4 linked regions of the Homo sapiens genome follow. The protein of the gene in region 2 interacts with the protein of the main gene of each other region in a pairwise test. Each region holds a gene or a part of one and is shown on either strand. Other genes may lie near its edges. The genes, in order: NFIC, TH, ZNF569 and TSPYL4.

Region 1 (7,246 bases), on a different chromosome or scaffold from region 2:
CACCCACTCCCCACTCGGCGGGCCGGGCCCGGGTGGCACAGAGCGGGCTGGCACCGAGATGCCCCCCACCCCCCGCCAGCCTCGGCTCCCGAGAAGGATCCGGGTCGGATCAGCTAAAAGGGAGCTATTTTCGGTTGGGCTCAGGTTGTAAAATTAGCTGGGAAAAGGGGGAGAGGGAGGCCCAGAGACAGAGAGAGACAGAGAGAGAGGAGTAAGGAGACACATGCAGAGATAGAGAGAGACAGGGAGAGAGGGGGCAAGGGGAGACACGCAGAGACAGAGGAGAAAGGGAAGGTGAGACAGAGATGAAGAGACAGACAGACATATTGGAGAGAAACAGAGACAGAGAGGAAGGGGGCAGAGAGACAGAGACAGAGAAACAGACAGAGACACATCGGACAGACACACAAAGAAGGCAAAGGGAGGGAGAGACAGAGAGACAGAGACACATCAAAGAGACATGCAGAGACAAAGAGGAGAAAGGGATGGTGAGATAGACATGAAGAGACAGAGACAGTGGGAGAGACTGAGACATCAGAGAGACAGAGGATGAGAAAGAGAGACACAAAGAGACCAACAGTGACTGGGAGTGAAACAGAGGCGGGGAGAGACAGAGATGGAGAGACAGGGAGAAACAGACACACACACACACACACACACACACACACACACAGAGTCAGAGCAAGACAGAGAGAAAGAGAGAAAGACAGACAAAAAGAGACCAAGATGAGAGAAACGGAGGGGACGTGATTCGGGAAACTGAGTCAGGCAGCCAGGACTTGGGTGGGAGGCTCCTGCATGGGGCACTCAGGGTCCTTCTGAGTCCCCCAGCCCACCCCACTGGCTACCCCAGACCAGGCTGGGCCTTGGGGGAACAGTGGGGATTACATTCAGGCTGAAGACAAACTGGAAAGGGGGTCCCCAGCTCCACTACAGGGCTGGGGTGGAGGGCGGGGCAGAGAGGAGAATCGCAGGGGAGGAGGGAGCCCCCTGCACTTGGGACTCGCTGTCCCCACTCTGGCCTGGGAGCTCTCTGCCTCTGTCTCTCTGCCTGTCTCTGTCTTCTCATCTCTGTCTCTTGCACGCAGCACCCCTGGATAGTTTTTAGTTTTTAGCCTCTCCGTTTTTTGGTTTCCACAGACAGCCCTCCTGGCTGGTCCTTGCCCTGTTCCTGGAGAAACTGAGGCCGAGTTAGCAATTCTCTGAGGCAAAGCCTGGACTGGGGTTCTTACTAACCCCCAACCCACCCCAGCAACCAGGATGTCTCCCAACCAGCCCTGATGGGGGAATTCCAGGGTGCACAGGCAGCCTTCCAACCTCCCCAGCCTGGAACAGCCTCCCCTCCGCTCAGCCCTCCCAAATGGCTCCTTCCAGCTGGTGAGGACAGAGCGGGGACACCTCAGTCACCCCACAAGCCCAGAGACTTCAAAGGCTGCCCGAGGTCACACAGCGTGCCCACTCGAACCCTAGTTGTTCTTGGAGAACTTCAAAGAGATGCCTTCTTCGGGAACCCCCCCCCCAAAGCTGCTCAGAAAGGGAAACTGAGGCTGGGACAGGGACTTACCCAAGGTCACTCAGGGGATCACAGGTAGGACAGACCTCAGACCCCCTCAGCACCAGCTCCCACATTCCCTGTCGGCTGCAGGGGGCCGGTGAGAAAGACCCTACCAAGGAGCATGCCTGGCGTGGGGGGTCCCTCACTGCACCATGCCCTGGAGCGGAAGCCGGGGACTCATATACTCCCCACACAGTGCTTCTTAAGACGGGCCTGGCCCTCGCTGGAATCGCACCCCCCACGTGCCGGGACTTTACAGTTTGCCCGCCATACTGTCCCCTCTCCAGAACCGGCCTTAGCCGCACCTCACTTCAGGGGAAACTGAGGCCAGAACCTCTCCAGCCTAAAGACACACTGCGTAAGGAGGAAAGCAGCGGTCTAGAAAACGGAACTTGCAGACCTCGGGGTCCCCGGGAGCCTGGGCTGGAAGGAGTCCCCGGGGGGAGCCGCCCCCTCCCCACACACCCCCTCGGCCATTGCACAAGGCTCGGCCCCGGGGCAGTCTGGGAGTGCGGCCAGGGGTGAGAGGCTACGGGAGGGGGAGGGGGAGGGGGAGGGGACGGGGCAGGTGCCGGGCTGGCGAGGGCGTCCGCAGCGCCGCAGTGCCCGGGCCAGACCCGGAGCGCCGGGCCTCCCGCTCCTCCCGGCGGCGGCTCCAGAATCCAGAATCCAGAATCCAGAATCGATGCAGCGAAAATACCGGGACGGTGCTGGGGGGCTTGCAAAGGAGGGGGGACCCAGCCGGGCCGCCGGAGCACCCTTCCCCCTCCTGGGCCTCCAACTTCTCCTGCCCCCTCCCCCTCCATGCACACGTGGGCCAATAACGAGGGAAAGGCGACCGAGGGCCAGGGCGGCCCGCACAACCTTGGTGGGGGGACACGGGGAAAACACATGAGAGGTCCCTTTCTCTCCAGCTGGGGAGACCCAGGGTCCAATCACGACCCCCTAGATTCCTCTCAGAGGCAGGCGGGGGGCTTCCCGCAGAGCCCTTGCTGGAGGGGGGCCAGCCCCCACCCCGACCTTTCCGAGTGTCGGGGCGGGGGTGCGGAGTGCGTCGGTGTGTGGGGGGGGGACGCAAATCTGCAGACCAAGCCCCACATCCGGGAGAGGTCCCGAGAGTCGGGGTTGGGGGTGCTGGGCGGGAGTCCCGCGTAGGGGGTCCGCGGTAGGTAAGGGTGTGGGGGGGGTACCCCAGCCTGACCCATCCCCCCACCGGACCCCAGCCCTCGGCGCGGGGGGCATCCCGGGCAGGGATGGCGGGAGGGACGCGCGCCTTTTTCGTCCCGCCTCCTCCTGCTTCAAAACTCCGGGGCTGGGATGCGGGGGGCGCGGGGGCGCCGGCGGGGGGCCGGGCGAGGACCGTACCTGGGTGAGGCAGAGCGGGGACGAATACATCCCGGGCGCGGCGGGAGGCGCAGGGCCGGCCGGAGCGGGCGCGCTGAACTTACTGAGTCATTTTTCCAAACCACCCCCCCGCCCCCCCCAACCCCCCCCCCCGCCCCGCGGCCGGCGCGCTCTCCTCGCCGCCTCCTCCCTCGGTCTCCCTCCTCCTCCCTCCTGCTCTCCCTCTCTCGCGCCGCCCGCCTCGCTCTCTGTCCCTCTCTCCCTCCGTCTCTCTCTTCCTCTCTCCCCCGTCTCTGTCTCTCTGTCTCTCTCTCTACCCTCTGACACCCTCCCCCTCCCACCCCGAACCTCCCACTTCTCAACACCCAACTTTCAAAGAAACGAGGGAAAAAAGGGCGCGAGCGAGAAAGGAGAGCCTCCCCCGACGTCTCAGGACCCCCCCGCTCCTCCCGTATTTACGCAATGCCCCAGGGCACTAGACCAGGACCCCAGGACTGCAGGGCGACCCCAATTCGGATCAAGCGGAGAGGGGGGACAGGGTTGTTTCTGGACATTGAGGGGCCAGGGGTGGATTTTTAAGGCCCCCCCTCCCCACCCCCCCATCACCCCCGAGCTGGCCGGGAAGTTGGAGGAAAGAGCCAGGGGGGAGGGAAGGAATGAAGAAGTGACGTGCGCAGAGGCCGGCCAGCGCGCCTCTTTCCCCTTAAAGATGTACGACCCTGGGTGCACGGTGAGCTGGTCCCACAGCACCCTGGCTCCCTTCTCCCCCCAGAGCCAGGCAGGGGCTGCGGGTCCCCAGCTAGAGGGGCTTGTGTGCAGCTGTCCCTTCCTTGGCCAGAAGGGCCCAGGCTAACACGGGAGGCTCCAGAATTTGCTCTCTTCACCCAGCACCCAAGGGGCAGGGGAGGGGTGGCCTCGCCTGTGTGTCTCTCCAGCACCCCAGGAGGACGGTGTCCAGGCGGGATCTCCAGCTGGCCAGATAAACCCTTGCAGCCTCCCCCTGGGTATCCAATAATTTCCACCTGCCTCAGGGGTGTGCCCTTTTCACAGATCTCAAGACTGAGGTATGGCAAGTGTGGCTTGGAGCCAGGCCATCTGGACCTGGAGCCCACATTCTGTTCTCCTTCTAGACGTAACAGGGCAGAGACCTGGCCTGCCTCCGTCTGAGCCCCCAGGGCATCTGATGACAGGGCCCCAACCCTCCCCCGGTTCACTCCCTGGATCCTCCCAGGCTAGCTCAGAGGCTGCTGTGTCTCTCATTCCCATCCCAAGGGTTCTCCCCTATAAAGTGGCTTAAAGATGCCCATCCTGTGGGATTGCTGGGGATAAGGACAATGACCTTAGCAGAGCCTTGACCTTGGGTCAAATGTTCACTAAAGACACATTCTTAGAAAGCTTGGCCATTTCACCTCATCTCTCTGAGCTTCCCAAGGACAAATGATACCCTCTCACCAAGCTGGGGCAGGTGCCCCAGGCCCAGGGGCGCAGAAGATACCAGCACCCATTATCCTCAGGCATTACAGGAGAGGAAACTGAGGCCCAGAGAACGGAAGCCACTTGCCCAGGGTCTGACAGGTAAACTAGGAGGGAGCAGAATTCCTGCAGCGTAGGTTCCCTAGGCCCCCCACAGGCTCCCCTCTGCATGACGGTGACATTATTCAAACAGTGCTTAGTACATCACGAACGGTCCATAAATGTGTGTGTCTGTGTATTTTAAACCCACTGTGCAGCTGTGGGGAGCATTTGAATTAAATGGTGAGAAGTGTATCTGGAAATCCACATACCAATATAACGTGAAGCAATTTATTTTATTAAAACACGCTAGGGACACATACAGGGTGAAATCTAAAATTCACAGATATTTAAAAGTTGCAGTTGACTTCAGACACTCCTCCTAGACTTCCAGACCCCGTGCCTTCCACCCTCCCTCCCCTGTACAGACCACCCTGCCTGCAGCCTTCATTCAGCAGCTTAGAATCCTTTGGAAGGTGAAGTTTAGAGAGCAGAGACTGCCCCTCTTGGAACCTCGGTTTCCTCATCTGTAAAATGGCTATAGTAACAGGATGCATCTTGGGAGGTGGGGAAGGTTGGAGTCTTTACATAGCATGTGGGAAGGCTGTGTGAATATTATTGGTGGCGGTAGCTGCAGGGAGAAACTTCTGCAAGTGTACGAACAGCAGCCTATATCCCAGTTTGGGTGGCAAGGGACCCCCGCAGCACACACAGTTGGTTCCCTAAATTGCCGCGTGGGCTCGCTGCTTGGGTCTATGTCTCCTCCAGTCAGCAGCTTCGTCTCTCTGCACCTCGGCTCTCCCTCTGTGAAATGGGGCGACGCCAGCTCATAACCCTCCAGGTTGTAGGCAAGTCAGCAAATACCTGCCCGTGGTTACAACAGGGAACTGTACGTCATAGTTTCTTTAAAAAGGCAATTGGTAGATTGGGACCTGCATGTGGAGGGCCCGGAAGATGGGTGCATGATTTAGCTCCTGGCACTTTCGAGCACAATCTGGCTCATTTTTTTTTTTTTTCAAAGCACTCTCTCTACAGTTATTTCACTCTTCGGCATCTCTGTAACTGTCCCAGATACAGGAGCACAAAAGAGTTGACTGCCACCTATAAAACTAATGCCCACAATTTGGAGGCAGCCATGCTGTCCATCTGTGGGGGACCGGTTTAGTAATCCCAACACAGGCTGGGACACTATGCAGCTGAGTAAAACCAGTGGCTCCCAACTGGTTATGTCCCCAAGAGACAAGTGGGGGGACAGAAAGCTGGAGAGCTCTCCCCCTTGGCACTGTGGACACTGGGGCTGGATCGCTCTCTGGGTTGGGGCCGTCCTGGGCCCTGCAGGGTGCTGAGCAGAGTCCATGGCCTCCACCCACTCCATGCCAGGGGCACCCCCCAGTCGTGACAACCACAAATGTCCTTAGACATGGCTAAGTGTCCCATGGGAACAGAATCAACCCTGGCTGAGACCCCACTGCTGTAGACCCAGCAAGGAAATTCAAGATCTCATTTAGGGTTTTAAAGAGTACACATGTATTTATACAAATATACATAGTATCCTTTACATACACACACATGCACACACACCCACACACACACATATCTCCTTTGGCCGGTTGTAGTGGCTCACGCCTGTAATCCCAACACTTTGGGAGGCCGAGGCAGGCAGATCACTTGAGGTCAGGAGTTTAAAATCAGCCTGGCCAACATGGCGAAACCCCGTCTCTACTAAAATTACAAAAATTAGCCGGGCATGGGCGAGGGTGCCTGTAATGTCAGCTACTCGGGAGGCTGAGGCTGGAGGTTCGCTTGAACTCGGGAGGTGGAGGTTGCAGTGAGCCAGGATCATGCCATTGCACTCCAGCCTGGGCAACAGAGCGAAACTCCATCTCAAAAAAAAAAAAAAAAAAAATATATATATATATATATATATATATATACACACACATACACATACATATACATATGTCTCCTTTATGGAAATACACGAGTATTTCCACAAGTACATCCTTTATGGAAATATACACATATGCACATGTATCCTCTATAAGTGTGTATTTCTCAGTCCTGCAAATGCTCCAACTATAGATGGTAACATTCTGGAGCGGGGTTCCACCCAGGAATGGGGGTGATCAGAAAGATTGGATTTTTTTTCCTCTGGATACAGTTGTATCCTCTTCATATGATCACTAATGGCTTCAGTAATTAAAGGAAAACTTAAAAAGTTGAATGCAATTCACAGAGCAGCTCAGGCAGGGTAGACAGGAACCCCCAGCCCCCCATGGTAACCCCACAGCCACCACACCCAGAGAATAAAGGACATAATCTTGCAGGCAAATGATTACACAGCAGTGCAGTGTGCAGTCAGCCTCCCCTAGCCCCGCACCTGCTCAGCAAGGGGCTCACAATGTCAGCTCCCCAGGAACCTTGCAAGGGTCCCATGTGGTCCCATTTTACAGATGAGAAACTGAGGCTGTAAGAAGGGATGTTAAAGTCAAGTGAGTTAAAGGTCAGATAGGCCGTTGAGGCTGGTACAGATAGACACACACACCACACACTACGACCTACAGAGACACACAGACACACATCGTGCAGACTCAAGCAGCTGCAGACACAGACTCCACACGACACACAGCTACATACACAAAGACACAAATACACGCACAGACTCACATAAAAACAGACCCATATATCATCACAGCCTTCCCCCCACACCTGACCTCAGATACCTCCTCAAAGAGGGGCGAGCAGAGACACACACACACACACACAGACCCACATGGCACACACACAGCCACAAACACACCCTCCCAACTCCCCACAGGACGCTTCTTGACAAGC
Region 2 (7,809 bases):
CCCGTTCTTCCAGGCTCAGGTCAGCTGTCGGCCACCAGGCCAGGGTTTGCCACTGGCAAGTTGGATTTTGTGTTACGTGCCTAACCAGGAGTTGTCACCGCTTGAGGCTTAACCTGGTTCTGGGCGGCTCGGTGTGTGTGTCCCAAGGCCATGCCACACAGTCCGGCTCCTCAGCCACTGGTCAGAAGGTGCCCCCAACCCTGGTGGCCTCATCCAGGTTTGTAGGATGGGCCCTGAGTCTCACTGGCCCCTGAGCGTCCAGGACACTGGCCAGAAGGGTCCGCTCCACCCCCACCTCCTGTTGCCTAGCAACAAGGGCGGTGGGTCGCAGTGGCCCTCGGGCCACAAAACTGGCTCTGGGAGCTGGGGGGCGGGGAGTCTGGCTTTAATGTCATTTGGGAGCTTCTTCCGGGAGCTGGGTCACCTGCCTCCCGGGGCACAGTGGGGCCGGAGTGACTAATGCAATCAGTGGTCACCTGAGCCACTGTGCTGGGTGGGTGGGAGAGGGCACACTGCCCTGCCCCTGCCTCTTGTGCTGCCCTGCTGGGAGCCCCCCACGTGGGAAATGGTGGGTGAGGGGGATCCAGGGGATGGGCAAGGCAAGAGGCACAGTGGGGCTTGGTAGCCTCAGCCCTAGGGGTGGGCTCAGGATCCCTCAAAAACACGGGGGTGTGGCTAGATGCCATGGGGGCTGAGCTGAGGCCTGAGACTCCCCTGCTGCATCCTGTGCCGGCCTCGGGGGCCTGGGCAGCTGCACCTCTGCTATAGAGGGGTCAGGAACTCAGCCCACACAGCCCCACCCACAGGTGAACTTGCCCCAGGGACACGAAGGCCACCAGCTCACCTCAAACACCTTCACAGCTCGGGACAGCGCCGAGGGCTTGGTGGCCCTCGGGGAGAAGAGCAGGTTTAGCACGGCCTTCCCCTCCTTCTCCTCAAAGGCCACAGCCTCCAGGGGGTCCCCGGGCTCCGAGGGGACTGCAGCGGCCGCTGCTGCCACCGCCGCCTCCCGCTCCTTGCGGGCGTCCTCGATGAGGCTCTGCCTGCGCCCAATGAACCGCGGGGACTGTGGGGACAAGGGGCACCCATGCCTCCTCCACCTGCTGAGACCCGGGGACCTCCACCCACAGCTGGTCCCACAGTCGGGCAGCGCTGATGGCACACAGAGGCAGGGGATGAGAGCACGTTTTTGAGCGCCTACTGTGTGCCTGCTGGGGCAGATGCTAGCCGAGGTGCCTGCGGGCATTGCACGCCCTTCCCGATGGGGGCAGCCCAGTCAGAAGCAGTGGTGGTGGGGGAGGAGTGGGGGCTGGGAAGGTGCTCGCCTGCTCCCCACTCTGTGGCGAGCAGACAGACAGAGACGCTGTGTCACTCATCCCCAGGCCAGGCGCTAACTGGATTAGTGATGGGAAGAGGGCGATGTCTTGATGGACAGTGGCATCGGCTGCCGGGGAGGGAACGGCAGCTCAGGAAGGAGCTGCCCCCACAGGGCCCCAGTGAACAACCCCCCTACCCTCCTGGCTGCCGCACAGGGGACCCTTTCTCACACTCCCATCAGGACACCTGTCCTCGGGCCCTGCCCCTCTGTGCCACCCCGCAGGCGCCCGCTCCTGGCTGCCTTGTCATCCCTCCACCCTTTGTCATAGCTCTGGGCGCAGGTGTCTCTCCCTGGGCTCAGCGCCTCTGACCCCTCGATCCCAGAGCCGTCCCAGGCCTGGACAGAGGGGGACTTGGCAGACACCTGGGGCTCATCCCTTGGAGCTGAACTCCCAAGAAGGCTCTGGGCCCCTTGTAAGAGAAGAATCAGCTTCATCCTGAGCTTCCAGGGTTGTGGAACATGAAGGGGAGCAGCAGAAGCCCCTCCCAGAGTCCCCTCTTACTTACCCTTGGGGTGGGGGTGTAGGATGCAGCTGGGGCTGCAGTTCCAGGCCACGGAGAGCCTGTGAGGCTGGGCCCCGGGGCGCCCTGGGGAGGGGATGCCTGATGGGGAGCCTGGTGGGGGAGGGTAGGGGAGGGCGGGGGAGGACGGGGGAGGGCGCCCTGTGTCCCTGAGAAGGTACCTGGAAATGACACTGCTACAACTCACACCACATTTCAATCAAGGTCCATAAATAAAAACCCATTTTAAATGTGCCAGGGAGCCCAAGGTTCTGAGTGCCCAAGGAGGCACCGAAGACCCCTCCTGTGGGCTGAAAAGCTCCCGATTATCCAGCCTGGCCCACACAGTCCCCTGTACACAGGGCTTCCGAGTGCAGGTCACAGGGAACACAGACTCCATGGTGAATGAATGAATGAATGAATGAATGAATGAGGGAAATAAGGGAGGAACAGGCCAATGGGAATCACCCCAGAGCCCAGATACCCTTTGAATTTTGCCCCCTATTTGCCCAGGACCCCCCACCATGAGCTGCTGCTAGAGCCTGGGAAGGGCCTTGGGGCTGCCTCCCCAAGCAGGCAGGCTGGTTGGGGTGCTGACTAGGGCAGCTGGGGCAGAGGGAGGCAGGGGCAGGTGGGAGTAGGGTGGGGGCTGGGTGCAGCAGCCGGGGACCTCTGGCCATCTTGGATTTTTTGGATGGATTTGTTTCCACATTCCGATCGTTAAGATTCAAGATGAAACAAGACACAGAGACCCACACGACCCCCGAGAGAGGTCGGCCTAAGAGGGGCACACACAGGGACAGGCATCACCTCACCCTCCCCCAACAGGGACTCAAACACCAGGCACAGGGGATGCCGCTGTGCCCAGGCCTCCACATCCACGCCGCGTCCCAGGGGTTTGCATGGACCCTGAGCCTGGGGCTGCCAGCCAGGCTGGGGAGTAGCAGAGGCAGCTGGCACCAGCCCTGGGCTCCGGTCCACTGCGGCCGCCGGGCACCTACCTGCCCTCTTACCATGATGGCCTCTGCCTGCTTGGCGTCCAGCTCAGACACGGCCCTGCGGAAGCCCTTGGCCTGTGGCGTGGTGGCGTCGGGGGTGGGCATGGCTCAGTGTGGAGGTCCGGGCTCCGTCTCCACAGCCCTGGCCCAGCAGCCTCTTATAAGCTGAGCTGACGTCAAAGCCCCCTCTGGGTCCCCCACCTTCCCCTCCTTACATCCCCCACCCCTGCCTGCTGTGCCTGATGGAGGCGGGGGTGGGTGAGGAAGGAGGGAGGCGCAGGAGAAAGGGCTCGTCCGTGGAATCTAATTGCCTTCACTCCCCAGCCCTGTCTGAATCATCCTCAGCCCGCGGGCTTGCGGGGACCAGGGGCTCGTGCTCTGCGGGGGGCTGAGACAGCCAGGGTCCCCTTGGCCCCACAGCCCTCAAGAGAGCACACAGGGAGGGGCTTTCTGGCAGCCCAGGGGCACACTTTTAATGAACACCAGAACCTCGTGGCAGACCGACCCAGAAAGCCCCAAGACGGGGAATCCAGCCTCCAGCCTCAGATGTCAGGAGGCAATTTGTTTGCTTCTCCAGAAGATTCCAGGCCGTGTGTCTCATAGACGTGGTTCCTAGGAGTGCCATCTGCCCACAGCCCCCGGGCCCTGCAGGTGTGGCCCTTGCAGCGGCTTCCCAAGCTCGCCCCGTGGGGTCCAGAATGTCCCAGGAGGGCCCACCTGTCCAGTGTGGAGGACCCTGGGAGGCTGAAGAAGACATCTCTAAGGAGACGCCACGCGTTTCCAAATGGCTGCCACCTCCTGCATCACAGTCCCCACCAGGGTTGCCAGGGCGACCAGGGCCAGGGACGGCTTCCACCCACCCCACTCAGCCCCTCTATGGCCCACTGCTAGCTCCTGGCTTCCCTCGGGGTCCTGTGGCCCCTTCTTTAAAGAGCACGCACGTCCCTCAGTGCTGAGGGCCCTGATGCCTTCCCCTTGGAGAGACCTTTGCAGTTTCTCCTCTACCCCACCAGGCCCCGGGTTGAGGGTGACCCTGGGGTGACCTGAGAACTCCCTTGAGGACAACCCCAGCCTAGAGCCTCCCCCAAGTTCCATGTCCGCCCCGCAGGCACCCGCATCCAGCCCACGCCCACTGGCACCTCCTGCTCCCAGCCGCTGCCCCACCCAGGGAGAGTGATGCCCCTGCCCAGGGTGGCTTCTGGCCCTTCTGGTGGAAGGGGAGGCCTCCCCATCCCTCTGGGGTCAGCAGAGATGGCCAGAGCCTGCCTTGACAATGCTGGACTGTACAGAGGGAAGGACGTGGCCCCAGAGTGCATGGCCTGCGGCTGAACGCTGCCACCGCTGTCCCTCCTGGAGAAGAACCGTTTCCGACAGGGCTTGGGGCTTCCTGTATCTGCTGGGCTTTCTGGTGTTGGCAGCCCAAGATGACACCCTGGGCCCAGCAGGAGCCAGAAGCCCTAGACGCTCCCTGACTTCTCGAAGGCCTACCCCGGCTGGTCACTGTGGCAGCCAGAGCTGGCATCTCTCAGGGCCCACTCTGCTCCTGTCAGCTGTGGGACTCCCCGCTCCCCGTTCTCTCTTCAACAATAGCCCCTGGGACCTTTCCTAAAACTGCTTCAGCCATGGCATCCCTGTCCCACACCCCTCCGTGGCTCCTCGCTGCCCTCTGCAGGCAGGCTGAGTGCTCAGTCAAAGCAAAGGGAAGACCCCCCAACCCTTCCCACTTCCTGGCCCAGAAGGATTTGGGGCTCCGTGATCCCCGGTTTGCAGTGTCATTCCTCACCCACCTCTTATCCGGGTGAACTCCTATGCATCCCACAAAACCCAGTTCCGTCGCTGCTCACTCTGCAATGCCTGCCCTTTCTTGCCACGATATTAATGCCCCTCCCTTGCGCTCCTCTGGAACATCCCTGGGGGCAGGGAAGCCTACCGCTCGGCCCCTGCTGTCTCTCAGCACCCAGTGCAGACCCTGTCCTCTCTCGGAGATGCTATGCCCCTCCACAGTGTTCCCCAAAGGCCTCCACCTCCTGTGGGTCCTGCCCACAGTAGGTCTGGGTGCCTGCTCAGAAGGGCGTTGGAGGGATTTGCCTCCAAGACCTCAGCCTGAAGGCTCAGCCTCTGGCCTCGCCCTGCGGCCCGTGAGCTTCTGTCACCCAGGGCTGAGGCCCACCCACCTGAGTCCCTGGTGATGGCCCTTGGGTGGCCCAGCCTCCATGCCCAGTGTCCAGGCCTGGTGAAGCTCTGCATGGCTCCCCCGAGCTCCCCTCAAGGTCCCCAGAAAGAGTCTCATTTGCCTCCCCCAGGGTCGGCTGCTGAGGATCCCTCGGTGAGGCAGCTCCAGGCCCCCCAGCACCCCGCCCCAGCTCTGCCCAGGGCGGCCCCAGTGCTCAGGTGCCCAGGCCAGGAGGAGAGACATGCCTGATGAACACCACGCCGGAGGCTCATGGCCCACACTGCCGGATGTGGATTTAACCTTTCAGCAAATGTCTTCCACTGATACAAATATTGCTTTTTAATTCGGTTTCCTGCCGGGCCAGTTGTGCTTTCATGGAAGCCCGATGGGAACTAAGCTTACTAGACTCTTCCTTGGGGCCAGGCTCTCTGGAGGCAGGAGCCCAGGCCAGGTGCTGAGGCTGGGGAGGCCCCTGGACCCCTGTGGAGGTGAGTGCTGCCCTCAGGTGCCTGCACCTGCCCTGCCTCCAGCCTCCCGCCCCAATCAGGCAGCATCCATCCCTGCCTATCCATTCCTGGGAAGCCTGTCCCACACGCCAGCCCCTTCAGGGCCGGGGAACCATGCTGTACCCCAGATCCAAGGCCCCTGTTGGCACAGAGGTGCCCCCGACTCCAGTCCTGGCCCTGGCCCCGCCCTCCTTTGTGCCGTGCCCCTCTCCGATTCCAGATGGTGAGGGTATCCATGGAGGCCCCAAAAGTCTACCCTGGCCAGCCTCCCCGCTCCCAGCCCGAGGGTACCTCTCCAGTCTGGACCACCCATGATTGAGCCATGCCCCGTGTCACCCACCTGCCTCTGGCCCTCTCCAGAGATGTCCACAAACACCAGGAAGGCTCCACTCCAGCGCCCACGGGACGAGGCCTCTCCACGCTGGGCACAGGCCTGGAGGGAGCACACGGCTGGCCCCTGGTCTTGGTAGAGCTCAGTGCTGGGTCAGCCTGCGGCATCCACGTTCGGGCAGCTGAGGTGTTCACAGACCCATTCTGCAGATGCGAGGACTGAGGTTCTGAGGTGCAACTTCTCAGGGGTCATGCAGTGAGTCTCCAGCCCAGGTTTCCCAACTCCCAAGACACTGGTCTTTCCTTTTTTTCTTTTTTTTTGAGACCGAGTCTCGCTCTGTCACCCAGGCTGGAGTGCAATGGCGCGATCTCGGCTCACTGCAAGCTCCGCCTCCCCGGTTCACGCCATTCTCCTGCCTCAGCCTCCCAAGTAGCTGGGACTACAGGCGCCCACCACCACGCCCAGCTAACTTTTTGTATTTTTAGTGGAGACGGGGTTTCACTGTGTTAGCCAGGATGGTCTCGATCTCCTGACTTCGTGATCCGCCCACCTCGGCCTCCCAAAGTGCTGGGATTACAGGCGTGAGCCACTGCGCCCGGCCTGACACTGGTCTTTCAAAGATCCGGTGGCATCCATCCCCTGGCACTGTGGGGCTCAGGAACCTAGGCCACAGGGAACAAATCAGACAGGCTGCTGTGACCAGCGTCCCATCTACAGAGACCCCAGAGGGAAGGGCAGAGCTGGGACAGGGTTCTCTGGAGGCCGAGGTCACGCCCCAAGAGACCCCTGGGGCCAGCATACTGGCCCCTGGGAAGGAGAAGGGCTGGAGCGGAGCCCCACCAGGGGGGGCTATGAGGTGGGGCCAGGAGTGAGGGCCGACCCAGGCCAGATCAGAGACAAAACAGGTGACCAGGGGAGTGGGGGCCCCGCAGAGGTCTGAGGAGCCCTTGCTGTCCCCTCCATTGCACCAGGCTCCACCTTCCTGCACGGAGCCCTCTGGGCTTCCCTCCATACCCCACCACCCTCCACCACTTCCGCCGTCCCTGTGGTTACAGCCCCTGCCACCATGGCCGTAAGGAATGCTGAGCCAGCTCCACAATGGAGCGTGTTCTCTCTCAACAGCCTCTCAGCCCGAGGCTTAATCACCCAGATTAATCACCCAGCACGTCTGTGCCCTGGGACTGGTGCCCACTCCCCGCGTGGGGCAGGGTCAGAGTGCTGACTTCGACCTGGCTGTGAGGCTGCTCCGCCCACAGGGCGAGTCTCTGAGGCCACCAGGCCTGCTCCCCAGCACCAGCCTTGCCCACCACGGGCCCTTCCCAAATCCAGGCCTGCTGGAGGAGCCCAGCCATGTGCTGGGGAGGAGCCCAGGAGGTGTTCTGGGTCCCCTGGCTGACAGGCATCGCCCTGTGGCTCTGCAGGGTCTAGCCATGGCCTGGCTGTGGTGTGCACAGGGCTCAGGTGGCCCTGTGATCTTTGAGAGCCAGCATGGTGTCCTCTTGCAAGTGCCTAGGCAAATGCAGGCATCTGTGTGAGGCACACACACATGCACACATGGGGCACACAAGCACACACACAACACTCCATGCACGTGTGAGCACCCATGACACAGGTACACACCACAGGTACAAGCAGCATCCACACACTGCACATGCAAGCACACTCACACATGACGTGTACATAGCACACATACAGGCACACTCAGACATAACACATGTGTGCACCACACACATGCACACACAGATGCATATGACACATGCATGCATATATGTACAAGCACACTTACATGGCACCTGTACACACCACACATACAAGTGTACTCATGTACACGATACACATACGATGCACTCGTAATGACCCACGGACACACCAGATGCACACACGGATGTGCATGCACTACACAGGCAAACACACTCATATATG
Region 3 (7,020 bases), on a different chromosome or scaffold from region 2:
GACATAAGTTTATTTGTCTCTCATATTGAAGTTCAAGGCTGGTCCTGTAGCTCCAAAGGGCAGAGAACGAAACTCTTTCTCCTTCATTGCTCTGCCATTCTTGGTTGTTGGCTTCTGCCTTATTATCTCAAATGGCTCTGTTTGCTCTCGACTCTGGTAAGTCGCATTGACTTACCAGTCTACAGGAAGGTAGAAGCTTAGGAGAAATGGTATACCTCGTGCCTTTATGTTCACTTATCAGCAGTTGCATGCAGTCCTTTCATCTCACTGTCCAGAACATTATCATATAAACATATTAATACTTATTTCAGCAGACCATGTGCCTGGCCAGAAATTGGGAAGACAGAATAAATATTGGAATAGAAGAATAACAGTGGGTGCTATAGTATTGCACTGTTGGGATTTTCTTCTTTTTTTTAAGATCAGTCTTAGGCTTATGTTTCCCTTTAACCTATTCATTTCATTATGAATTTAAAAATTTCAGGCTGGGTGTGGTGGCTCACACCTGTAATCCCAGCACTTTGGGAGGCCGAGGCAGGCAGATCATTTGAGGTTAGGAGTTAGAGACCAGCTTGGCCAACATGGGAACACCGTCTCTACTGAAAATACAAAAATTAGCTGGGTGTGGTGGCGCACGCCTGTAGTTCTAGCTATTTGGGAGACTGAGGCAGGAGAATCACTTGAATCCAGGAGACGGAGGTTGTAGAGAGCCAACATCACGCCACACTGCACTCCAGCCTGGGCAACAGGGCGAGACTCTATCTCAAAAAAAAAAAAAAAAATTCAACCACAGATATATACTACTTTAAATATCAATTAGTTTTAATGTTTTTTCCTAATTTGGGATGTTTATTTTTCTTCCTTAAACTTACTAAACATTTGCCTAATTCATTCTTCTTAAACTATCAGCTTTTTTTTTTTTTTTTTTTTTAAGAGACAGGGTCTTGTTCTATTGCCCAGGCTGCTCTAATGCAGTGGTGAGATCATGGCTCACTGCAGTCAAACTCCCAGGCTTAAGCAGTCTTCCCACCTCAGCCTCCCAAGTAGCTGGGACTATAGCCACGCACCACCATACACGGCATTCATTCATTCATTCATTCATTCATTCATTTATTGTAGAGATGAGGTTTTGCTATGTTGCCCAGACTGGCCTTGAACTAGCCTCAAGCAGTTCTCCCACCTCGGCTTCCCAAAGTGGTAGAATTACAGGCGTGAGCCACCGCGCCTAGCTCCAGCTTTTAAATATGGAGATTTGTGTATATGTAAGTTCTAAATTTTTCACTTTAAATTGTTTCTGTTTTTGCATTTACTAAATTCTTTTTCCCAAGTATTTTCTTCAAATGTATTTTAATGATTTCTTTTGGGATTCTCTCACTCTTGAGCTAGGGGCAATTAGGATTTTCTTGTAAAATCTTTGGTGCTGATTTTTAAAATTTATTTACTAGTTTAATGATCTGACCTCCTGAAGAAAATACAACTTCCTGAGGAAAAAGTCTGCAGCTGAGGTAGTCCCAGCAAGAGTGTGTTTCTTATGTGCTCATGTTCTTCCCTGTAATTGGTGAAACTATTATACCAGGGCCAGATTTCCACATCATGCTTTCTCCTCAGTCCCACTTCCTCACCAAATGCTTTATCCAGGCTTATTTGGATCTTCCTCCCAGATGAGGGGAAATATTAAAAACCCCTGGATTTCAGGGTTTTTTTCCTCTGACACTTTGCCTTTTGCTTCTTGAACATGTTTATTGCAAGCATCATGATTTTCAGCAGGAAGGGCTTTCAGGAGCTGATCTCCCATCAGTACCACAGCTTTCTCTGAGCCCTTAGTGTTAATGGATGTTCATGCTCATAAGTTCCTTTTAGGACCTAGAAACAAATTCTTAGATACATTGTGAACGAGCTATTGGAGACTTTCTTTTTTCTCACCTAGTTTCTGGTAGAAATTCCTGAAACAGTAGGAAATATGGATTGCTCCCTTTTTTCCAGGCTGAGTGCTATTTAAGATTTTTTCTTATGTTCATATACGTTTGGGCATTTCTGTTTTGAACTAGGAAGAGTGCATTAGATTTCTATATTCAAATCACATTGCCTTTAAGAAGTTCACCAGTTTTTTTGAAATTCATTCAATAGCTTTTTTTTTTTGAGACAGGGCCTTGCTCTGCCACCCAGGCTGGAGTGTAGTGGTGCAATCACGACTCACTGCAACCTCCACCTCCCGGGCTCAAGCAATCCTCCTACCTCAGCCTCCTGACTAGCTGGGACTACAGATGCACACCACCACACCTGGCTAATTTTTGTATTTTTTGTACAGACGGTTTCGCCACATTGCCCAGGCCCGTCTCAAAACTCCTGGGCTCAAGGGATTTTCACGTCTCAGTCTCCTAAAGTGCTGGGATTACAGGCATGAGCCATGTAATACCCAGCCATTCTACAGCTTTTTAAATACACAGTTTCAGTTATAATTCTATTTCTGACCATTAAAAAACAAATTGTCATCAGGGCATGTGTTTTTTCATGGTTGTCTCTGAGATTCTATCTGTGGCCCCTTTTCCAGTACATGTAAACTATTTGAACAATCAGATCCCATTTTCATGGCTGCAGACACATACTACAGGCTGATGACCCATAAATCTTCATTTCCAATGTGGATTTCTCCTGATCTCATGAACAATACATCCAACTGCTAAATCAGTGGCTATCTCCAGTTGCATGTCCCACCATACCACAGATTTCACCTATCATTCTGTCCCCTGCTTCTGCTTCCATCTAAGCCTTGCTTTCATTTTTTCCTGCCTTTGGTATCTTGTGAGATCTCAAACCACTTAACTTGGTTAAAGTTTTATTTTTATGTTTCTTTCACACTCAATATAAATTGGTACCTAAAATCTCCCCTTTAACTCATGGTAGATATTAAAGACATGTGCTTGCTAATCAGTGAATGAACATAAATGACAGGATGCTGCTAATATGATGGGCTTTTTTAATAACCTCTGATTAATATCAGAACAAGGTTCAATATATTTTGTTTACAATCACCCAAGATGGATGACTTCAGATTGAGTGGGAGTGTGTTGTTACAGGGAACAGTAACATTCAAAGATGTGGCTATCGACTTCACTCAGGAGGAGTGGAAGAGATTGGATCCTGCTCAGAGAAAACTGTACCGGAATGTGATGCTAGAAAACTATAACAACTTAATCACAGTAGGTAAGAGTAATTTACTATATAATTCAAACTCTGGAAAGAAAGTACCTTTTTTTTCCTCCCAGTGTTTCTGAAATACATGGACCTTTTAAATATTAGAGTGAGCTTGGCCTTGGGATGCTTTTGCTCATGTGAATGTCCATGCTGCAGTTTTCAGAGCAAAAGGGGACAGAACCCCCGAAGCCACATTTTCTTGTCCTTTAGCCTGGTTTTCCTGGGCCAGCCTCAATTTTTGGGTGGTTCTTTGTTCCTAGTATGTATGCCCAAATCTATGTAACTTCCCTTTGACAGGCTATCCGTTCACCAAACCTGATGTGATTTTCAAATTGGAGCAAGAAGAAGAACCATGGGTGATGGAGGAAGAAGTATTAAGGAGACACTGGCAAGGTTAGTGGAAGGGAACCAGACAGGTGAGGAGAGGTCAGGGCCTATTAATGATTAATCAGTGAATGGTTGATCCCTCTAAAATATTCTTCAAAGATATTTTCAGAGGTTGGCACAGTGGTTCATACCTATAGTCCCAGCACTTTGGGAAGCCAAGGTGGAAGGATTGCTTGAGTCCAGGAGTTTGGGACCAGCCTGGGCAACATAGTGAGACCTCATCTCTTAAAAAAAAAAGAGAAAAGAAAAATTGGGCCTGGCACAGTGGCTTGCGCCTGTAATCCCTGCACTTTAGGAGGCCGAGGTGGGCGGATCATGAGGTCAGGAGATCACAACCATCCTGGCTAACACGGTGAAACCCCATCTCTACTAAAAATACAAAAAATTAGCTTGGCGTGGTGACACGCGCCTGTAGTCCCAGCTACTTGGGAGGCTGAGGCAGGAGAATCGCTTGAACCCGGGAGGCAGAGGTTGCAGTGAGCCAAGATTGCGCCACTGCACTCCAGCCTGGGCGACAGAGCAAGACTCTGTCAAAAAAAAAAAAAAAAAAAAAAATTAGCCACGTGTGGTGGCATACGCTTATGATCCCAGCTGCTTGGAAGGCTGAGGTGGGAGGATCACTTGAGCCTAGGAGGTTGAGGCTACAGTAAGCCATGATCACAGCACTGCACTCTAGCCTAGGCAACGGAGTGAGACCCTGTCTCAAAAAATATATATATATTTTCAGAAAGCATGTAGACCTTTTGTGTGTGTATGTGTGTGACAGAGTGAGACTCTGTCACTGTGGAGTACAGTGGCGCGATCTCGGCTCACTGCAACCCCCACCTCCCAGGTTCAAGTGATTTTCCTGCCTCAGCCTCCTGATAGCTGGGACTACAGGCACGTGCCACCACACCCTGCTAATTTTTTGTATTTTTAGTAAAGACAGGGTTTCACCATGTTAGCCAGGATGGTCTTGATCTCCTGACCTCGTGATCTGCCTGCCTTGGCCTCCCAAAGTGTTGGGATTACAGGCATGAGCCACCATGCCCGGCTTTTTTTTTTTTTTTTTTTTTTTTGAGACAGAGTCTCACTCTGTCACCCAGGCTGGAGTGCAGTGGTGCAATCTTGGCTCACTGCAACCTCTGGCTCCTGGGTTCAAACGATTCTCATGCCTCAGCCTCCCGAGTAGCTGGGACTATAGGCATGCACCACCATGCCTGGCTAACTTTTTGGTATTTTTAGTAGGGATGGGGTTTCACTATGTTGGCCAGGCTGGTCTTGAACTCCTGACCTCAAGTGATCCGCCCACCTCAGCCTCCCAAAGTGCTGAGATTACAGGCGTGAGCCACCGCGCCTGGCCTGATGTACACTTTTGTAGTACAAAAGTGACCATTGATGCAAACTCTTTTATAAACCTAAGATGTCATTTCTAGATACCATTCTTAATTTCTTTCCTCAGAACTTAGAGATCTGGTTGGCTTTCTTACCTGTGTGCTAGATACCAACCTTTCCTAATAAGTTTCCAGGCTTACTTTGATATTCATTCTATTATTAGCATCTTCGGGAGTACCATCCACCCTCATATACAGGATCCTTTCTTTTTGCATACATTCACTAATTTGCAGTTGTTAAATCAAACCTACTGACATTTATAGTCCCTTACTTTCTCTTCTTTCTTCCATTGTAAATGTCTGAAATGTCGTACAGTCATACTTCCCACTGTATTTTTAGGTTTTACTCTCATACTTCAATAATCACTACCACCCTTTATTTCAATAAAAGTTTTAAGTCAGTGCTGATTTTTTGGTAGCTCCCATTTTCTGATATATTTGTCATGTACATATGCAAGTGTATGTAATGTAGGTGTGCATCTATATATACCCACATATACATATATACATATACATATATATGTCCATATACACGTATTTTGAATTTTATAAAGTCATTTTTGCCCTCCAAAGAGACTGTAATAATTTATATTTCCACCAGTAACTTCAACCAGTGTAGTCTGTTAGCATTTAAAAAAATCGTTGCCAAACTGAGGTGAAAAATGGTAGCTAATTATAGCTTGAATTTACATTTCCTTTATGATGAGTGAAGGCAAGCATCTTTTCATGTTTCCAATCTATATTTCTTTGTTTTAATAAACAGTTGGTATCCTTTGCCCTTGTTTCTGTCAAGTTCTTAATTTGTATGAACTCTTAACATATTGAGCTGATTGGCACATCATCTGTCATATGTTTTTCTTGTGTTTTTTTCCCAAAGAGATTATTCCTCGTTGAAGTACTTTTTTGCCACCTCGACTTTTTAAAATAATTCATGTAGTTAAAACAATCTGTTCCTATAGGAGATTATCACAATTTTTAAAATGTATATGGTTCAATTATGTTTAGATATTTCTCAATAATGACTCATCCTCTTATGTTTGCTATGAATTTAAATAATTGTTTATACTTTTAAAGTTTTTAATGTCAATGTTAGACTGGTTTTATAAATAGAATTTGGAAGCTTTCCTTCATGCTCTAGAGCATTTATATAGCATTAGTGTTAAAACTCCCTAGAAAATTTGGTAGATGTTACCTGTTGAACTATTTCGACCTTGTGTATTTCTGAGGGAAGTTTCCTTGACAACTCTTTTCATTTTTCCTTTTATAACTATCCTATGTGTATGTAAATATATTTTTGTCTTTTGGCATTAGTTTTTGATAATAGGTTGTATTTTTCCATGAAATTACCCACTTAATTCTAGTCTTCAAATTTTCAGAGTTGACAAAGTAACTTCCATAAATATTAAAATTTCCTCTGTATCTGTAAAAAGTTACCACACATTGATATTCCAGGATCATCTATTATATTTGAAAATTTGTTTCATCTGTATTTTCAAATGTTTTGGTATGAAATTATTTGTAGTGTTCTCTGATTTTAGCTAACAGTTGCTTGTTTTCCTATTGTTTATTTTTTGTGTGGGATAGGTGGGTAGAGAGGTATTCTTGGAGGTTTGTGCTATGTCCTGTAGACCCAGTGATGCATCAGAATGTCTGTCTTATCCATTACCTTGTTTTGCAGTGTGACATTGCTGTACCGTAATTCTAATGGTGAAAGTTCTATTCCCCCCGCACCATAATATTCTTCATTTCAATGGTGGTTTTCTTTTTCTCTTCCAATTATTTCCTTGGTTCTGCTGGTAAAATTTTATACCCTTTCTGTTTTCTCAATGATTCTTCCTCATGCATTTATACAGGCATATCTCATGTTATTATGCTTTATTTTATTGTGCTTGGCAAATGTTGCATTTTTTTATAAATTGAAGGCTTGTGGCAGCCCTGCATCGAACAAGCCCATTGGCACCATTTTTCCAAAAGCATGTGCTCACTGTGTGTGTCTGTGTCACATTCTTGCAATATTTCAAACCTTTTCATTATATTATTATCTGTTATGGGGATCTGTGATCAG
Region 4 (7,880 bases), on a different chromosome or scaffold from region 2:
ATGCTTCCACAAAGCTCAGTGTCCCATTGTGGAGCGCCTTACTAACTCCATGATGATGCACGGCTGCAACAACGGCAAGAAGCTCATGACTGTGTGCATCGTCAAGCATGCCTTCGAGGTCATACACCTGCTCACAGGCGAGAACCCTCTGCAGGTCCTGGTGAACGCCATCATCAACAGTGGTCCCCGGGAGGACTCCACACGCATTGGGTGCGCCGGGACTGTGAGACGACAGGCTGTGGACGTGTCCCCACTTCGCCGTGTGAATCAGGCCATCTGGCTGCTGTGCACAGGTGCTCGTGAGGCTGCCTTCCGGAACATTAAGACCATTGCTGAGTGCCTGGCAGAGGAGCTCATCAATGCTGCCAAGGGCTCCTCCAACTCCTATGCCATTAAGAAGAAGGACGTGTGGCCTTCTTGGAGCATGTGGCCAAGTCCAACCGCTGATTTTCCCAGCTGTTGCCCAATAAACCTGTCTGCCCTTCAGGGCAGCCCTACCAAAAAAAGCAAAAAAATTACAACTAAGTTATTATAATGACTTTAAAAAATGTGCATGTTGATATACAATATGAATTTCAAGAAAGGAAAAGGGAGTTATAAAGCACGTTATAAAAAGAAATATCTGGCCAGGTCCGGTGGCTCACACCTGTAATCCCAGCTCTTTGAGAGGCCAAGGCGGGCAGATCACCTGAGGTTGGGAGTTTGAGGCCAGCCTGGCCAATATGGTGAAACCCTGTATCTACTAAAAAAAAAAAAATTAGCCGGGCATGGTGGCAGGTGCCTGTAATCCCAGCTACTTGGGAGACTGAGGTAGAACTGCTTGAACCCAGGAGGTGGAGGTTGCAGTGAGCCAAGATCTTGCCACTGCACTCCAGCCTGGCTGTGACAGAGCGAGACTCCATCTAAAAATAAAATAAAAGTAAAAAATAAATGTTATATCTGATGAGCTGAGAACTGTTAAGGCATTGAAACACAGAATCATGAATTCTTGTTTCTCTTTAGTAATTGGGCACTTCCTCAACAATTGTCACTAATTTTATGGATGGGGGCAGGCTATAGACTGAGTGTTTTTGTCCCCTCTAATATATTGAAACCTAATCCCCAATGTGAGAGTATTTGGAGCTGGGGTCCTCTGGGGGGCAATCGGTGCCCTATAAAAGAGACCTCTGGTTAGAGCCCTAATGAGATTAGTGCCACTATAAAAGAAACCCCAGAGAGATCCCTCACTCCTTTTTGCATGTGAGGACACAGCAAAACAAAACAAAACAAAACACAAAAAAACAACAAACTACAGTCTAAGAATCAGGATGTAGGCCCTCACCAGACACCAAATCTGTTGGTGCCTTGATCTTGGAATTCCCAGCCTTCAGAACTGTGAGAAGTAAGTTACTGTTTACAAGCCACCCACTCTATGGTATTTTGTTACAACAGCCTGAATGGACTAAGACAGGTAAAGGAAAAGAAGATAAAGAAGAAAGTTCAACATTAAATTGGGATGGTCATGTAGTCTTATTTCTAAGAAGGTGGCTTTTCATTTTATGGGTTGTGTAAGGTTGCAGAATACTATGGTGAATGAGTGCACAGGCTCTCCAGTCAGATTACCTCGTTCAGATTGTGGCTCTACCACTTGCTGTGTGATCTTGGATAAACCACTTTATTTCTCATTGCCTCAATTTCTTCTGAGGCATAGGGAAGGGGAGGTCATAATATCACCTCACAGGGTCCTTGTAAAAATTAAATGAGATACACATTTAAGCACATAAAAGTATATGGTATATAGAAAACACTAAATAATGAACCAGAAACTATATCATTCTGAAAAAGAAACTGCTGGTCAAAGATGTAACAATAGGGGATATTTCACAAATTTTCCAATCTTTATACTTTAGTAAAGTCATTCCTGTTTGACTGTATTAATTTATGTTTGAACTTCCATTAAATATCTTTTCTCCTTGCAAATAAAAATTACCTCATAGATTTTCATGGCATTTTCTATCGATATTTTCCCATAGAATCATAAGTCACTGATGTAGTTTTTTCTGCTTAGTAAGGTTTATTGCCAATTTCCAGTAGAATAGACTTTACTGTGTACAAAATATATATTATTCTAATGTGCAAAAAATGTAAAATATAACTCATAGCTACTATTATATATCCACCCACCTCAAAATGAAACACAAGGGTAGTCATACTATTCATTTTGGTAAAATTTTTTAAAATTTTTATTTAAATTTAAATTTTCACTTAAATAATCAAGATTCATTAAAACATTCTATGAGATAGTAACTGGACTATACTGTCGTAGATGCTACAGAAGCTGCTATGCAGTCATTATCTAGCTGGGATAAAACTGACCTTAATGAAACAACCAATAAAGTTAAAAAGTAGAGGATAAATAAGTACGGTCATTTGCTGCATAACATTTTGGTCAAAGATGAACTGCATATACAAGTGTGGGACCATACAATTGTAATACTCTATTTTTACTGTATCATTCTTATGTTTAGATACAAAAATGCTTACCATTATGTTACAAGTGCCTACAGTATTCAGTACAGCAACATGCTGTTCAGGTTTGTAGCCTAGGAGCAATATGATATACTATTTAGCTTAGGTGTATAGTAGGCTATTGCAGCTAGGTTTGATAGATGTACTGTATGATGTTTCCATAATGACAAAATCCCTGTCATTCAGTGAAACGTAACTGTACTAAGTTGGATAGTAAAAGTCATAAGGGCTATACAGAAATCAGAAGACTGTCAAAATGGCAAGTAATTAAGGAAGGAGGTAAAGTAATAAGGTGGGAGGAGGCAATCTGCCAATTAATACATATGTGACCATGGGCATGTTAACTGCTCTGTGCTCACTGGGTCTTTGTTTATAAAATCTAATGTATTTAAACTGCCTAGTACAATCTACATGAACTGAGTGTTAAAGAATGGCCAGGTGGTTATGAGTGAAAAATGATTCAGGTGACAGAACTAATACAGGCTAGAGATGGGAATGCTTTGAGTAGTAGAGATATAAATCTTTAAAAAACTTTGGCACACACAAAAAGAAAAAGAAGTTCACATGTAATTTTATACTTTTCTATAAATTTGTATAGTAGCAAACTTGTTTTTTCCTGCTGCATGGAAAAGTAACTTTCATTCAGTATTCCCTGCTTCTCTTCATCTTGACTCAGGTTATAATGGAAAAGTTACTCTTTCAACAGTGCAAAGGTTCTTTGGAAAAGAAACAGAGCAGTGTCAATAATTCAAAGTCACAAAGTCAATTATAGCACGCTGTTTATGTGTTTACAAAGACGATACCTCAATAGATTGATTTCACCCCACAAATAAAAAAAGAGCGTTTATTAAGACAAAGAGGAAAGAGGGAGAGAAAAATAATTGCTCTCTGCTGTGTGAATCTTGTTTGCATATTTCTTATGGGATAACTGATTAGCTGGCAGGCAGTAAAGAGGTCATTCTGGACACATTGTCCTTGGGTAGGCTGACTAGGCATACAAAAAATCCTGCAAGGCAGGCTGTTTCTCCGTATTGTCTGCCAGTGACCTTTCATCAGTACTTTATCTTAGTTGAACCAGAACTACACTCCTTCCCTCGCTAGAAGTCTCAGTATATATGATGTATTCCTCTAAGAGGAATCCTTTTTCTCTAAATCTGTACTTCTGAGCCTGTATTTGAAAGTGATCATAATCTGGGGGGCTTAAAATGGAGTTTCTTTTACAAAGAGTTATAATCATAACCGTTTATTTGAATATAAATTTGACATTAAACATAAATATGCAAAATTTAAATTTCCCTTTGGTCTTGCATTTTTCTAAGGATTAACACCATTATTCTCACACTCCAACAAACTAATATATTGTACTGATAATCACTATCAAATGAATTGTAAGAGCTAACTGACTCGAATAGACAATAACTAACCTTACTTTTAAAGTATTTTAAGAGACAGTAGCATAGATGCCTGCACATAGCTGATTATTGCTCCTGTGCTGCAGTGAATTACCACATGAACACATTTTGAAAAGATTTGTTAGCTTCATGTCCACAGGCATTATGAAGCAGGAACCACTTTTAGATTAAGATTGTAACCTGAGGAAAAGAACATATGCATCAGTTTAGAAATTAAAATCCCCTGAGATATTTCTTTCAGTAATGCTTAAAAGCCTAAATTTGTGCTCGTGTGCCAGTCACCTCTACGTAAGGAAAAACATTTTGCTACTCTTTGTTAAAAGTGAAGAGGAAATATTGTCCACTTGTTTTGTAGATGTTGGCCAAATTATATAAACTTTAAAATCTGTAAGACAAATTGAAATATTCCTTTATTATGTCTTGTTAGGATGAGAGAAGTTTGCCTTTCAGCTGCTCCTTAATTTTAAAAATAACAACACAGCAACACTTCTCTTTAAAATCAAACTCTGCTCATTTAAATTCTTTGGTAATAGCCATGAATCCACACCTTAAAAGAAGGAAGGCCTGTGAGTTCGTGAATCCACTTTCCTACTCAGGAGAAGCCCTATGAACTGACTTGAATAGACAGTAACTCACCTTAAAGTAAATATTTTCAGAAACAATAGGTTAGGTGCCTTAGAAATTCATTCAGAGGCTTAGAAATCCACATTAACACAGTTCTTACATGCTTGAGTCTGGTCTACATCCATTTACGTAAGTAAAACTCCCCTTCCAGACTGACGAAATTCTTTTTGTGACAAGAAGACAAAGGAATACGATGGATTGATAAGCGTAGTCAACCGCGCAGAGAGTTCTCGCGCGATGTTACGACGCTACCGCCCTGACATCACCAGTTGCCATGGTAGCACCGCCGAGAGTAAAGGAGGGGTGGTGCTAGACGTTTCGGGCAGAGCTCGGCCGCTGCGGAGGACAAGGAACTCTCCCTCTCCCACTAGTCTGACTTCTTCCAAAATGAGCGGCCTGGATGGGGGCAACAAGCTCCCTCTCGCCCAAACCGGCGGCCTGGCTGCTCCCGACCATGCCTCAGGAGATCCGGACCGAGACCAGTGCCAAGGGCTCCGTGAAGAAACCGAGGCGACACAGGTGATGGCGAACACAGGTGGGGGCAGCCTGGAGACCGTTGCGGAGGGGGGTGCATCCCAGGATCCTGTCGACTGTGGCCCCGCGCTCCGCGTCCCAGTTGCCGGGAGTCGCGGCGGTGCAGCGACCAAAGCCGGGCAGGAGGATGCTCCACCTTCTACGAAAGGTCTGGAAGCAGCCTCTGCCGCCGAGGCTGCTGACAGCAGCCAGAAAAATGGCTGTCAGCTTGGAGAGCCCCGTGGCCCTGCTGGGCAGAAGGCTCTAGAAGCCTGTGGCGCAGGGGGCTTGGGGTCTCAGATGATACCGGGGAAGAAGGCCAAGGAAGTGACGACTAAAAAACGCGCCATCTCGGCAGCAGTGGAAAAGGAGGGAGAAGCAGGGGCGGCGATGGAGGAAAAGAAGGTAGTGCAGAAGGAAAAAAAGGTGGCAGGAGGGGTGAAAGAGGAGACACGGCCCAGGGCCCCGAAGATCAATAACTGCATGGACTCACTGGAGGCCATCGATCAAGAGTTGTCAAACGTAAATGCCCAGGCTGACAGGGCCTTCCTTCAGCTTGAGCGCAAGTTTGGCCGCATGCGAAGGCTCCACATGCAGCGCAGAAGTTTCATTATCCAGAATATCCCAGGTTTCTGGGTTACTGCCTTTCGAAACCACCCCCAGCTGTCACCTATGATCAGTGGCCAAGATGAAGACATGCTGAGGTACATGATCAATTTGGAGGTGGAGGAGCTTAAACACCCCAGAGCAGGCTGCAAATTCAAGTTCATCTTTCAGGGCAACCCCTACTTCCGAAATGAGGGGCTTGTCAAGGAATATGAACGCAGATCCTCTGGCCGGGTGGTGTCTCTTTCCACTCCAATCCGCTGGCACCGAGGCCAAGACCCCCAGGCTCATATCCACAGAAACCGGGAAGGGAACACTATCCCTAGTTTCTTCAACTGGTTTTCAGACCACAGCCTTCTAGAATTCGACAGAATTGCAGAGATTATCAAAGGAGAACTGTGGCCCAATCCCCTACAATACTACCTGATGGGTGAAGGGCCCCGTAGAGGAATTCGAGGCCCACCAAGGCAGCCAGTGGAGAGCGCCAGATCCTTCAGGTTCCAGTCTGGCTAATCTCTGTCCTGTGAGAAGCTTCTGCACAAGTTTCCTTACCACCTCCTCTTGGACCTATGCTTGGCCAACAGCATGCAGTCTTCCATCTGCTTTCTCTTCATACTGTGGATTATCTTTTCCTTTGGTTCTAAATCTTCAGTAATCGGTTGCAAGATTGTTGGCTTACCTGCCTGTGCCATTCTTCCTCTGGGCCTTCATGCTTTTCTGCATTGTGTTAACATGTTTCAAGTGCATGGCCTTCTACGGCTTCTATGCCAAGCGTATGATACTATAGATATAGTGTACCATACTGCCTTTCTTTGCATGGCTTGGACCCTATCTGTGACCATGCTCTTCTCCCAATTTAAGTGGTTCTGTACCACAAAGAATCTTGATACATTTTCACAAATAACTGATTGGGCTTCATACTTTATGCTGGCTGTGTCCTGATACCCATGTACTTATGGTAAGCTATTTGGGTATTACCACTGCAAGACAAAACTGATATCTTAACCCGGCCATCAACCCAAATTGGACATTCCAGACTACCACCAACTGGATCCCAGCTGCCTTCCTGGGCTTGTGCCATCCACCCTACTGGTTATCTGATAGAACAAGCTGGTGGCTGATGGGTGACTGCTAGGCGTGACTGAGGTAATAGATGAAAAGTGTTCTATGTTATCACATTGGTTTTCCTGTACCTTTGGTTACTCTACGTCATGACCAGCTGCTGGTGAGTATGAAGCCTGTGCTATAGCCCACCCCTACTCACTCTCACCTTCTGGTTGAACTTTGCTTAGGCCACCATTGTCTGCCTCATCAGGAACTATCTGTAGACGTAGCTCCCAGGGAGCTCACAGCAACACCCCCTACCACCAGGATGGGCAGTAATATGTGACAGAGCCCAAAGCAAGGCTGGAACGCAGTCCCTTCCAGCTTAGTCTTTCTGACTCCTAGCCAACAAACCATCCTTAATGTGAGCAACTTCTTTAGGCATTTCCTCTTTTCCCCGCCTGCACCCACTCTGAACATGACAAAAGTTGCCAGAGTTGGGGCATTGAGGAAGAGATATTTCTGGAATGTGAGACTTGTTATGCCTCTGTCTCTTTCTCTCCCTCCTCCTCCCCTCTCCCTCCCCCTCTCCCTCCCATCCCTTTTCTTCCCTTTCACTCTGAAGCAGTTTTAGCTTATTAACAGAAAACAAAACTGGCAAAGCAGGCTTTTTGTTTAATTTGCTCTTTCCCTGATTGTGTTCAGAGAGAAAGGTTATGATTAAATGGGCTCCAGATCTCTTATTGCCCTTATTCCTCCACCCCACTTCTTTTAGCAAGGTCTGAAAGTTTCAAAGGGAGACCTATAGGTTAATTGTTTAGTTATAGGCAGTGTTAAATTAGGCAGATTTTGACATATTTATCTTTTTACCCCATCCATTCTACCAAAACCTGTGTATTTCTTGAGTTTTTAGTTTGAGAAGCTGGAAAGAGAGAGAAGGGCCTCACAGTGATGGGTTCAGGACGGGTCAAAGGCAAAGGCCTTTGTGATGTGAGCAAAGGCAACCAAAACTTAGCCTCACTCCACTTTTCTAAAGATGGAAATTCTTTTTTGGGCCTTGGACTGCTTCTAGGGTAGCATTTTGTAGGTCACTCTTCTCCTTTGTACTATTTTGTTTCTGCCCTGATGTCCCTTGGGTCTCCATCCTACTGCCTGGCTTTCTTGGCCCTCATT

Evidence for each region.
Region 1: the proteins of TH (region 2) and NFIC interact in binary tests that used the Homo sapiens proteins (3 or more experiments, as listed by UniProt).
Region 3: the proteins of TH (region 2) and ZNF569 interact in binary tests that used the Homo sapiens proteins (3 or more experiments, as listed by UniProt).
Region 4: the proteins of TH (region 2) and TSPYL4 interact in binary tests that used the Homo sapiens proteins (3 or more experiments, as listed by UniProt).

The regions. Positions count from the first base shown.
Region 1 is NC_000019.10:3,362,341-3,369,586, reverse strand, and holds the start of NFIC (nuclear factor 1 C-type), read right to left. Parts: upstream 3,005-7,246; 5' UTR 2,951-3,004; coding exon 2,921-2,950; intron 1-2,920.
Region 2 is NC_000011.10:2,168,806-2,176,614, forward strand, and holds the start of TH (tyrosine 3-monooxygenase), read right to left. Parts: upstream 3,011-7,809; 5' UTR 2,982-3,010; coding exon 2,892-2,981; coding exon of another isoform or gene 2,880-2,891; intron 1,966-2,879; coding exon of another isoform or gene 1,885-1,965; intron 1,067-1,884; coding exon 845-1,066; intron 1-844. UniProt on the Homo sapiens protein: Catalyzes the conversion of L-tyrosine to L-dihydroxyphenylalanine (L-Dopa), the rate-limiting step in the biosynthesis of catecholamines, dopamine, noradrenaline, and adrenaline. Uses tetrahydrobiopterin and molecular oxygen to convert tyrosine to L-Dopa.
Region 3 is NC_000019.10:37,422,436-37,429,455, reverse strand, and holds part of ZNF569 (zinc finger protein 569), read left to right. Parts: intron 1-3,077; coding exon 3,078-3,204; intron 3,205-3,492; coding exon 3,493-3,588; intron 3,589-7,020. UniProt on the Homo sapiens protein: May be involved in transcriptional regulation.
Region 4 is NC_000006.12:116,251,060-116,258,939, reverse strand, and holds the start of TSPYL4 (testis-specific Y-encoded-like protein 4), read left to right. Parts: upstream 1-4,864; 5' UTR 4,865-4,931; coding exon 4,932-6,176; 3' UTR 6,177-7,880.